Linked DNA regions of Homo sapiens: region 1 is linked to region 2. A link means that fine-mapping ties the variant in region 2 to the expression of a gene that starts in the linked region. Tissue or cell type: whole blood. Region 2 holds a variant in brackets; the other region holds the start of a gene. All regions are shown on one strand. Distances are from middle to middle. Region 1 holds the start of SPART (spartin). Region 2 overlaps SPART (spartin).

Region 1 (5,377 bases), 23 kb after region 2:
TCCAATCCTCACTCTTGGAGGTTGATATCTGATTTTAAAAATGTTTTACAAATATTGAGCAGCTTGCCCAAGAAGAGAGCTAGTAAATGATACATTCAAATCAGTTCATGGATCAGAAGATTATCTGTCAAGAAAATTAAATGAGCTCTCGCCTGTAATCCCAGCTACTGCACAGGCTGAGGCCGGAGGATCGCTTGGGCCCAGAAGTTCAAGGTTGCAGTGAGCTATGACTGCACCACTGCACTCCAACCAGCCTGGGTGACAGAGCAAGACCTTGTCTCTTTAAAAAAAAAAAAAAAAGAAAGAAAGAAAAGAAAAATGAAAATGAAAATTAGATGAGATGTGTTTGATTCCAAATCTAAAAGTCCTACTATGTTTACAAGTCAGCAGAGTGAGGGAGGGGTGAAGAAAACCCAGAGTGTCCCGTCGTAGAAAGTCATGTGGCTTAAATCTTCAATAGGTAGCATTTGAAAGTAGAAGCGAGGCATAATGAAGGAATATAGCTAGAAGCAATATTTACCTTGGGTATACGTTTATTTCTAAGCTTATTTTACATACGGTGTGATGAAAGATTTCCTAATAATGTGTCAATGGAGGGAACAAGATGGCTACTGAGAAAGAAGAGTGTGCCTGTGTGTAGGGGTGGAGTGGGAGGGCTAATTCCACAGGATTGCTTAATAACCTTCCTTGCTACATCTCCATCTTAAAGAGAAAAAAAGGATACACGAGAGAAGAGCCTGGGTATCTAGAGGTTATATATAAGTCTAATGGTCAATTTCAGTCTAATCTCTGGGGAATCTCAACACAGAAAGAAAAAGGTTTATATTAAAATATCACATTTTTATTTTGTGACTGGGATTTGCTATATCCTCAGCGGTCTCAGAAAATACATTTTACAGAAATAAGGATTGGAGGATGGTGACTTAAAAAAAAGCCTATTCTATTCCTAAGCACAATTAAGTGTCAATCAAGTGTCCTGAAAAGATAAAAACCATTATCACATTATTTCACATTATTTAATTTTCAAAGTTAAGAAGACAAAGTCTTTGAAATGACAATCTGATGTATTAAACAGTACCTACACCAGTGTACAGTCTTCAACAACAAACCAAAATCTGTTCCGATACCAGTAGTTCACCTAAATTCTAATTTTTTAACGTTCTAATAAAACACATTTATTTCAACATAACTACATGTATGTCTGTGTATGTCTTAAAAAATACCCGAGAAAAGGTAAAATTCTGCATTAAAATACCTAGCAATTTAGTTCGATTCCATAAACACTGAAAGAAGTAACACTCTCACTTAACAGTCAACATTACAAGCAGTCTTTAATAATACCGCATTTAACTCCTTAGAGCTAGCACAAGTTGATCTAATGCCTATTTGGCCCTTTACCAAAAAAGCGGAGGGGGCTTTGTCTAACACCTGTATACACCTCCCTCCGTAGCATCCCGCTCATTCTAGCTTCTTAGGGAAACCATAGACAACGACGTTTCAGAGAGTGCCAGAGGTGAAGCCGACCCGAAACCACATTACAGAAAGGCTTCCTGTTTCAAACAGGTCCAATAAAGCCACCAAATTAAGTCTACGATTATAAAGAACTGCGAATCAGAAAATAATTCCATATAGGTGCAGTCTTCTATTACTTTTTTCCCCACTTTCGGAAATTTCAAAGAAAAATTGCTACATTCTTAAATATGAGGCCATTATTTCAAAGGCTGTAACAACCTGGAACGCAAATTCGTTAAATTATGATACAATAAGGCCAACCTCGAGGATCCTCGGTGGACTACTAGCGCACTTCCTTACAATTAGAAAGTGAAAAACTGGGTCAGCCCTAGAGTCACGCAATAATGCTGCGTCACGAAACTGCGCATTCCAAGAGAAACTTTTCTCAGGCCCAGAATTAAGTCGGAGGGATCCGCCGCGCAGCTCAATCCCTAGGAAGCATGAAAGAATGTATTGTAAAGAGTAAAATCACGCGCAATCCATCCCAATATAACCGCAGTTGTTCGTGGGCCTTCTTGCAGAGAAAGGCTGCCCAACCTTGACGGGGCCATGGGCGCTGCGGGAGGGCAAAAGACCACAGAGATCTGCGAAGCCAAAGTAAACAACGGGGTTGGGGCGGCGAGAATGATCAATAGCGATGCTCCGAAAGGACTCCGCGATAGGAATCGAGCGGGAAGGATTCCCTCCATCCTAACAGTCCATGGGTTAAGAGGCCGAAGCTTCCCTAAATACCACACTCCCGCGAGAGAAGGGACTGAGAACAACTTCTCAAACTATTCTCTCTCGAAATCGCTCCCTTCCTCGAAAATTCCATCTCTGAGACTCGGATGAGGTCCCCACCCCCTCCACCCTTGTCCCGTGACCGTCGCCCGCTCAGCCTCCCAGCCGAGTCCGCGGGGCCTGGGGCGCCCACCCCGCCCACCCAAGGGACCGCGCAGGGGTGAACTCCCCCGCGCCCCACCTGCGCCTTCCAGACCTCGGGCGCCCCGGCGTTGCCTCGAGAGCTCCCTGCGCGGCCGCCGCGGCACGGACCAGCTCCCACTCCCTTACACTGGGCGCCGCTGCGCTCGCCGGGGGCCGGTCCCGAGGTTCCCAAGGCCTCGCGCGCGCGCTTGCCGTGGCAACCAAGACGTTCCACGACGCGCGCTCTCGAACGCTTCGCGTCACGCGGCCGCGCGGCCCCGCCCGTCGGCCTCGCTCCCGCCACAGAGCCCGCAGCACGCCGCCGCCGCAGCCTAGGTCACGTGAGTACCCACGCGCGCGTCTTGCCAGCGGATTCATCACCGGCCTGCTCAGACTAGGTTCTGCCCACTCTGACCTTCTAAATGGTACGTGGGAGGACGTCCGTCCCCTTCGGACCCAAGAGTCACCGTAACACTCTAGAAGGGGAGAAAAGGAGCGAGGGCGGCAGGCGACAGAGAACCTCGCGAGTCAGCGGCCCCGCGCAGACCCCCCCAGGCACGGTCCCCTGCGGCCACGTCGGCTGCTCGGCGCCTGCGCAATCTCTTTCTCTCCAGCGAAACCGAGGCCTCCGGAGAGCCTAGTAGAGAGTGTGGGCAGTGAGCGCTTGTAGCCGCTAGAGGGAGCGCTGGGCACAGTGCACGAGAGACAATAAAGGCTGATTATCCCCTCAATGTCTCTGCAGCCTGAGCTTTGTGACTTCTGTATCCAGAGCACAGTTAATTTCCAAAAGCCCGCCTGCACCACGTGTTTTAAGTCTTGGTGTGTGTGTAAAGTCTATATCACTATCATAAAACTGTTAGTTCCTGATTCCGGGATACAAAGAGTAAAATCAAGATGAACATACTTTACCCTTCTTGACAAGTGTTTTTAAATTAGTAAAATATTGTAGATGACAGACTCTTCAATAGGGCTGCCTTAGGGAAAAAAAAACAGAAAAAAGAAAAAGCAGTATGTACTTGCCCGGAGCATTTAGAACCAGTTTTGTTGTTGTTGTGTTTTTGTTTTGTTTTGAGACAGAGTCTTACTATGTTGCCCAGGCTGGAGTGCAGTGGCATGATCTCGGCTCACTGCAACCTCTGCTTCCCAGGTTCAAGCGACTCTCATGCCTCAGCCTCCAGAGAAGCTGGAATTACAGCTGTGCACCACCACTCCCGTCTAATTTTTGTATTTTTAGTAGAGACGGGGTTTCACCATATTGGCCAAGCTGGTCTTGAAAGCTTGACCTCAAGTTAGCCAGGCTGGTCTCGAATTCCTGACCTCAAGCGATCCACCTGCCTCAGTTTCCCAAAGTGCTGGGATTACAGGCGTGAGTCACCGCGCCTGGCCTTAGGACCAGTTAAGTGACTCCCTCAAATCTCAGAAAGGTAGCAGTCAGTCATCCCAAAAAGCAAAACCTATTAGGAATATATTAATACAGTGGTTTCAAAATGATTTTGCTCTTATACCCCCAAAGGAGTCCCCAAAGACTATGACTGTATTCTCACTTCCACGTTTTTGGATTGACCATCACAATTTCTCATCTGACTTAAATAGTTACAAAAGAAGCAACTTCTGTTTTATTATAAATTAACATTTTAAAATAAAAGTTATATAACTTTTAAATGTAGCCAGTGGAATCTAAATACCAATTTAATATCTAAAATCATCAATTTTTAAAACTACATGAACAAGCTTTTAACAGAAGGAAATTTTACATCATTTCTTTTCTTCTTGAACTCATATTTCCGTTCCATATTGTGAAATTGTATGTCAATATTTCTTTAGTCTTGCAAATATTGGCCAGGCTTGGTGGCTTATGCCTGTAGTCCCAGCTACTCCAGAGGCCGAGGCAAGAGAATCGCTTGAGCCCAGGAGTTCGAGACCAGCCTGGGCAACATGACGAAACCCGTCCCTACAAAAAAACACAAAAATTAGCTGGGCATGGTGGTACACATCTGTAGTCCCAGTTACTCCAGAGGCTGAGGCAGGAAGATCACCTGAGCTGGGGAGGCAGAGGCAGCAGTGACTGAGATTGTGCCACTGCACCCCAGCCTGGGCAATAGAGCCAGACCCTGTACCCCCTGGCCCCCACCAAAAAAAGAAAGGAAATCTTTTATTGGTCATCTACTCTACTTCTTTACATTTAAAAAGTACATACATTTAAATAGAATTTTTTAAATTTCCAACAGCCATAAAGATGAATGTGTTTAAAACATGTAGAATTTCTATACACAAAATTGTTATATATAGAAAACCCTAAAGAATTTACTACAACACTGTTAGAACTAATAAATGAGTACATCAAGGATTCAGGACAACAGGTCAACATACAGAAATCAATAGTATTTCTATACACTAGCAATGAACATTTCAAAAATGAAATTAATTCCATTCATAATATTATCAAGAAGAATAAAATACTTAGAAATAAATGTAATAAGTGCAAGACTTGTATGCTGAAGACCATACAACATTGCTGAAAGAACTTAAAGACCTAAATAAATGGAAAGACATCCCATGTTAAAGGGTTGAAAGACTTCATATTGGGAAGATGGCAGTACTTCTCAAATGGACCTCCAGACGCAACACAATCCGTGTCAAGATCCCAAATGACTTTTTTGCAGAATTTTGCAAGCTGATCCTAAAATTCATACAATCCAGGGAAATATAAGGACCCAGAATAGCCACATGAGCACACACACACAGATCTTGAAAAAGAAGAATGAAGTTGGAGGACTGACACATTCCAATTTCAAAACTTAACTACAAAGCTGCAGGCCAGGCATGGTGGCTCACACCTGTAATCCCAGCACTTTGGGAGGCCGAGGCAGGCGGATCACCTGAGGTCGGGAGTTCGAGACCAGCCCGACCAACATGAAGAAACCCGGTCTCTACTAAAAATACAAAATTACCTGGGCGTGGT
Region 2 (5,377 bases):
TATTCTGGATACCACACCTGACCCCCATGACTGTATCTCTCTGATCCACCTGACATTCACCCCATTTCCCCAAATTTCCTTCTTTCCTGTTCCTTACCCTGATCACGCTTGATTTATTGATGGCAGTTCCACCAGGCCTAATCGCCACACACCAGCAAAGGCAGGCTATGCTATAGTACAAGCCACTAGCCTGCCTCTTAGAACCTCTCATTTCCTTTCCATCGTGGAAATCTATCCTCAAGGAAATAACTTCTCAGTGTTACATCTGCTATTCTACTACTCCTCAGGGATTATTCAGGCCCCCTCCCTTCCCTACACATCAAGCTCGAGGATTTGCTCCCACCCAAGACTGGCAAATTAGCTTTACTCAACATGCCCCGAGTCAGATAACTAAAATACCTCTTAGTCTAGGTAGACACTTTCACTGGATAGGTAGAGTCCTTTCCTACAGGGTCTGAGAAGGCCACTGCAGTCATTTCTTCCCTTCTGTCAGACATAATTCCTCAGTTTAGCCTTCCCACCTCAATACAGTCTGACAACAGACAAGCCTTTATTAGTCAAATCAGCCAGCAGTTTTTCAGGCTCTTAGTATTCAGTGAAACCTTTATATCCCTTACGGTCCTCCATCTTCAAGAAAAGTAGAATAGACTAAAGGTCTTTTAAAAACACACCTCACCAAGCTCAGCCACCAACTTAAAAAGGACTGGACAATACTTTTACCACTTTCCTTTCTCAGAATTCAGGCCTGTCCTCGGAATGCTACAGGGTACAGCCCATTTAAGCTCCCGTACAGACGCTCCTTATTAGGCCCCAGTCTCATTCGAGACACCAGACCAACTTAGACTGTGCCCCAGAAAACCTGTCATCCCTACTATCTTCTGTCTACTCATACTCCTATTCACCGTTCTCAACTACTCATACATGCCCTGCTCTTGTTTACACTGCCAGTTTACACTGTTTTTCCAAGCCATCACAGCTGATATCTCCTGGTGCTGTCCCCAAACTGCCACTCTTAACTCTTGAAGTAAATAAATAATCTTTGCTGGCAGGACTATGCTGAATCTCCTTAGGCGCTCTCTAATCAGATATCCTGAGTCGTCCCAATTCTTAGACCTTTTATACCTGTTTTTCTCCTTCTGTTATTCCATTTAGTTTCTCAATTCATCCAAAACCGTATCTAGGCCATCACCAATCATTCTACACGACAAATGTTTCTTCTAACAACCCCACAATATCACCCCTTACCACAAGACCTCCCTTCAGCTTAATCTCTCCCACTCTAGGTTCCCACGCCGCCCCTAATCCCGCTTGAAGCAGCCCTGAGAAACATCGCCCATTCTCTCTCCATATCACCCCCCAAAAATTTTTGCTGCCCCAACACTTCAACACTATTTTGTTTTATTTTTCTTATTAATATAAGAAGTCAGGAATGTCAGGCCTCTGAGCCCAAGCCAAGCCATCGCGTCCCCTGTGACTTGCACATATACGCCCAGATGGCCTGAAGTAACTGAAGAATCACAAAAGAAGTGAATATGCCCTGCCCCACCTTAACTGATGACATTCCACCACAAAAGAAGTGTAAATGGCCGGTCCTTGCCTTAAGTGATGACATTACCTTGTGAAAGTCCTTTTCCTGGCTCATCCTGGCTCAAAAAGCACCCCCACTGAGCACCTTGCGACCCCCACTCCTGCCCGCCAGAGAACAAACCCCCTTGGACTGTAATTTTCCTTTACCTACCCAAATCCTATAAAATGGCCCCACCCTTATCTCCCTTTGCTGATTCTCTTTTCGGACTCAGCCCACCTGCACCCAGGTGAAATAAACAGCCATGTTGCTCACACAAAGCCCGTTTGGTGGTCTCTTCACACGGACGTGCATGAAACTCAGCACTTTGGAAGGCCAAATTGGGCGGATCACCTGAGGTCAGAAGCTCGAGACCAGCCTGGCCAATATGGTGAAACTTTGTGTTTACTAAAAATACAAAAATTAGCTGGGTGTGGTGGTGTGCACCTGTAGTCCCAGCTACTCAGGAAGCTGAGGCAGGAGAGTCACTTAAACCCTGAAGGCAGAGTTTGCAGTGAGCTGAGATAGCGTCACTGCACTCCGACTTGGGTAACAGAGCGAGACTCTGTCTCAAAACAAAACAAAACAAAACACAAAAACACAGAAGTCCCAAATCACAGCTTTCTCTCCTGGTAAAAAGCTAGCTGAACCCTAAGATTATATAGAACCCAACTTTTCTGGTAAGTTTTAATAATTTTTATCATGAGAAATATGAGTTTAAAACACTGATCACTGATCTTTTTATTTTCAGCTTTTGATAGTCTTTATTTCTGGCTAAGAGAGGGGGAAAATTGGCAGAAAATTGGCTAGCACATGGCTACTACTGAATTTCCAATCATATGACATGTATCTTATGTTTGACGTAGTCCTCTAAAAACCTAGAAATGATTTGTCTTAGCACTTAACCACCCTATACCCATCAAAGTATAAATTGAATATATGATTGCTCTTTGATGTTTTGTTCATTCTATATAATTTATGCCAGAATAAAGGTCTTTGTGGATCTGACAGCTGGAAGACTGTACTAGGCCAATGGAGTCCCAGAAATAATCTACTGAAGAATAGGAGGACTTGTTTGTCTATTCTTTAACAGACTGAATTAACCAAAATGGAAAAGTTTTTGCTAGGGCCTAGAAGCACAAAATGGTAGCAAAAAATGCATAATCTTGGAGAAA[T/C]CTTAGGGAGGCATCATAGTTGCCTCCGTTCTGCTCACTCTCAACCCTAGGATGATATGTTGGAATAGGTAGGCAGAAAGTGATCATTCCGTCTCACTCCATGTCAACTGTTTGCCTAGCATTCCAGAGTCCATCTGTAAATTAAATTGGGAAAGACTAGGGAGTTGAGAGGGGACATTCAAATACCCTTGATGATGTTTTGCTATCTCACAACCACTAAAGTGTTTCAGAATGGTTGAAGGTAGATTGCTCCAAAGGTGGGCTCCATCAGTTTATTGTCAGCAACCCTCTACCTCCTTCCAAATTAGCTTACTAGGCTCTACTCGATTGATACTGCATAGCCGCTGCCTTCTTAAAGTGTTAAGTCTAGGTTTCTCAAGCCTATACAGGTAAACTTTCAGCATGGTTGTTTTACTTTTTTTACCTTTTACATTAGGAGAACCTCAGACTAGCTTTTAGTGATCTTTACTTATTCTTTGACAGTGGACAGGCACCAATTATGGGCTAAGATGAATGAGCTCAATTTATATCCCTGGTTACTCATTTTGTACATAGACTGAATCAGTCAGGTAACAATAGTCTCTTGATAGATCAGATAATTTTCCCTGGAGTAAATCTTTATTAATTTTCTGCCCCCCTTTGTTTTACTTGTACCATAAACATTTGACGAACTACTCGTTCTACCTATTAAAAAGCTCATAAAGAGACATATACGCTGATAGGCAGTTAAATAGTTTACAGTTACCAACTATGAGGACATTACTAGAACCCCAGCCCTGAAGGTATAGAATAAAAAGGAAAAGAGGTACTGGCACGAAGAAACTGAGGTCTTAAGTAATAAAGAAGTCCTCTGAGTGTTACCAGAACACAGTTTTTGCTTGTTTTAAAATTATGCACTGCTGAAAGTTCTTTTGAAATCTACAAAGAGACCTCTTCCCAGGATTAACTGGCTGTACTGCTTCCGGTAGCACCATGGTGTGCTATCTATAGTACCTAGGAGGCCTGAGATTTAGTGGCAGCTGATGAAAAAATTTCTGAAGATGACCACAAACAGTGCCTGCTATTCTGAATGTTAATCTTTCCACAAGATCTTGACATTCTTCCCAGAGGGAAGTGGGGTCTATGTCACATTCCTTGCATCTGGGCTGGCTTGTTGTTTGCTTTTAACAACAAATTTCCAAATGATGTTGGAAATTTCCAAGAGTATGTCAGAAATGGTAATGCAGCTTCTGTCTGTTTGCTGGATGATTCACATTTGAAGCCCCAAGTCACTAGGTAGAAGCCAGACTAGCCTAAGGCCACCATGCTAGGTGGAAGTCCAGCCACAAGAGGCCATGTGTAGGCACTCTATTTGGCAGTCCTAGACTTTGACCTCTCCCAGCCTAGATGCCAGAGGTGTCAGTAATGATTCCAGTCTTCAGCTTATTGTCAAGTCACTAGCTAGCCTTTGAGTCTTCCCAGATGAAGCCCTTAGATACCATGAAAGAGATATAAGCCACTCCTGCTGTGACCTTTCCAAATACCTGGCCCACTGAATTCCACAGAAACAAATGTTTGTTGTTTTGTGCCTTTGGGTTTGGGGCAGTTTGTTACATAGCAGTAGTAAATGGAACAAACTTGTAACAGTATTTTCACTTGCGTGCATGTGAAGAGACCACCAAACAGGCTTTGTGTGAGCAACAAGGCTGTTTATTTCACCTGGGTGCAAGCGGGCTGAGACCGAAAAGAGAGTCAGCGAAGGGAGATAAGGGTGGGGCCGTTTTATAGGATTTGGGTAGATAAAGGAAAATTACAGTCAAAGGGGATTTGTTCTCTGGCAGGCAGGAGTGGGGGTCGCAAGGTGCTCAGTGGGGGAGCTTTTTGAGCCAGGATGAGCCAGGAAAAGGACTTTCACAAGGTAATGTCATCACTTAAGGCAAGGACCAGCCATTTTCACTTCTTTTGTGGTGGAATGTCATCAGTTAAGGCAGAGGAGGGCATTTTCACTTCTTTTGTGATTCTTCAGTTACTTCAGGCCATCTGGGCATATACGTCAAGTCACCGCGGATGTGATGGCTTGGCTTGGGCTCAGAGGCCTGACAAGTATAAATTCCAAAAACTTGGGAAAACGACCTTTGAATTTAGTGTGTTGGGGTAACAAGCAAGTTTTCTGAATGATGGCCTCCTAATAATAATGCTTAGCAGCCTATAAAGTTGGGGGGTAGGGTAGTAAAAGTGAAAAGATTTTTCATTGCAGTTTCTTTGTAAATCTCTTTCAAGTCAATTTTAACTATCGCAACTACATTTTAAAATTTGGCTCTATCTTTTTTTCTTGTCTCAAGCATAGTTCTTTGGCACTAGGAAAAGTATTTTATTAGTTCCTAGCAAGCTAATTATTTTAGCTTGTTGGTTTTTTATGTTGAAGATTTCCTCTGCTTTAGACATCTTTTAAAATGGATTTTAGTGGACATGGAAATCTGAATTGACAGTCGTTTAAATGAGTCAAGACCCATTTAATGGGGTTATGAATTTGACACACTGAATGGTGACTGGCAATATTTTTTAAAAAACAAAATAAAAGGTATAAATCAGAGAGTTACTACAGCTAAAAAGCTATGTGAAATGTTAACCAATTAAAGTAGAAAGATGTGTCACTAAT

Evidence for each region. PIP is the estimated chance that this variant, and not a neighbour inherited with it, causes the effect.
Region 1: it holds the start of SPART, and the variant in region 2 is fine-mapped to the expression of SPART in whole blood (INTERVAL, PIP above 0.99).

The regions. Positions count from the first base shown.
Region 1 is chr13:36,343,752-36,349,128 of GRCh38, forward strand. SPART (spartin) reads right to left here and starts at 2,643. Exons shown (of 9, transcript NM_015087.5): 1 at 2,474-2,643. SPART-AS1 (SPART antisense RNA 1) reads left to right here and starts at 2,680. Exons shown (of 5, transcript NR_045181.1): 1 at 2,680-2,756. RefSeq lists a silencer at 2,492-2,541.
Region 2 is chr13:36,320,311-36,325,687 of GRCh38, forward strand. All of the region lies in intron 5 of SPART (spartin), which reads right to left. Among named protein-coding and RNA genes, the nearest start is that of SPART, 23 kb to the right of the region's middle. RefSeq lists enhancers at 1-317, 1,020-1,722, 1,723-2,424, 3,962-4,256. The variant T/C (reference allele first, on the strand shown) is at 2,740.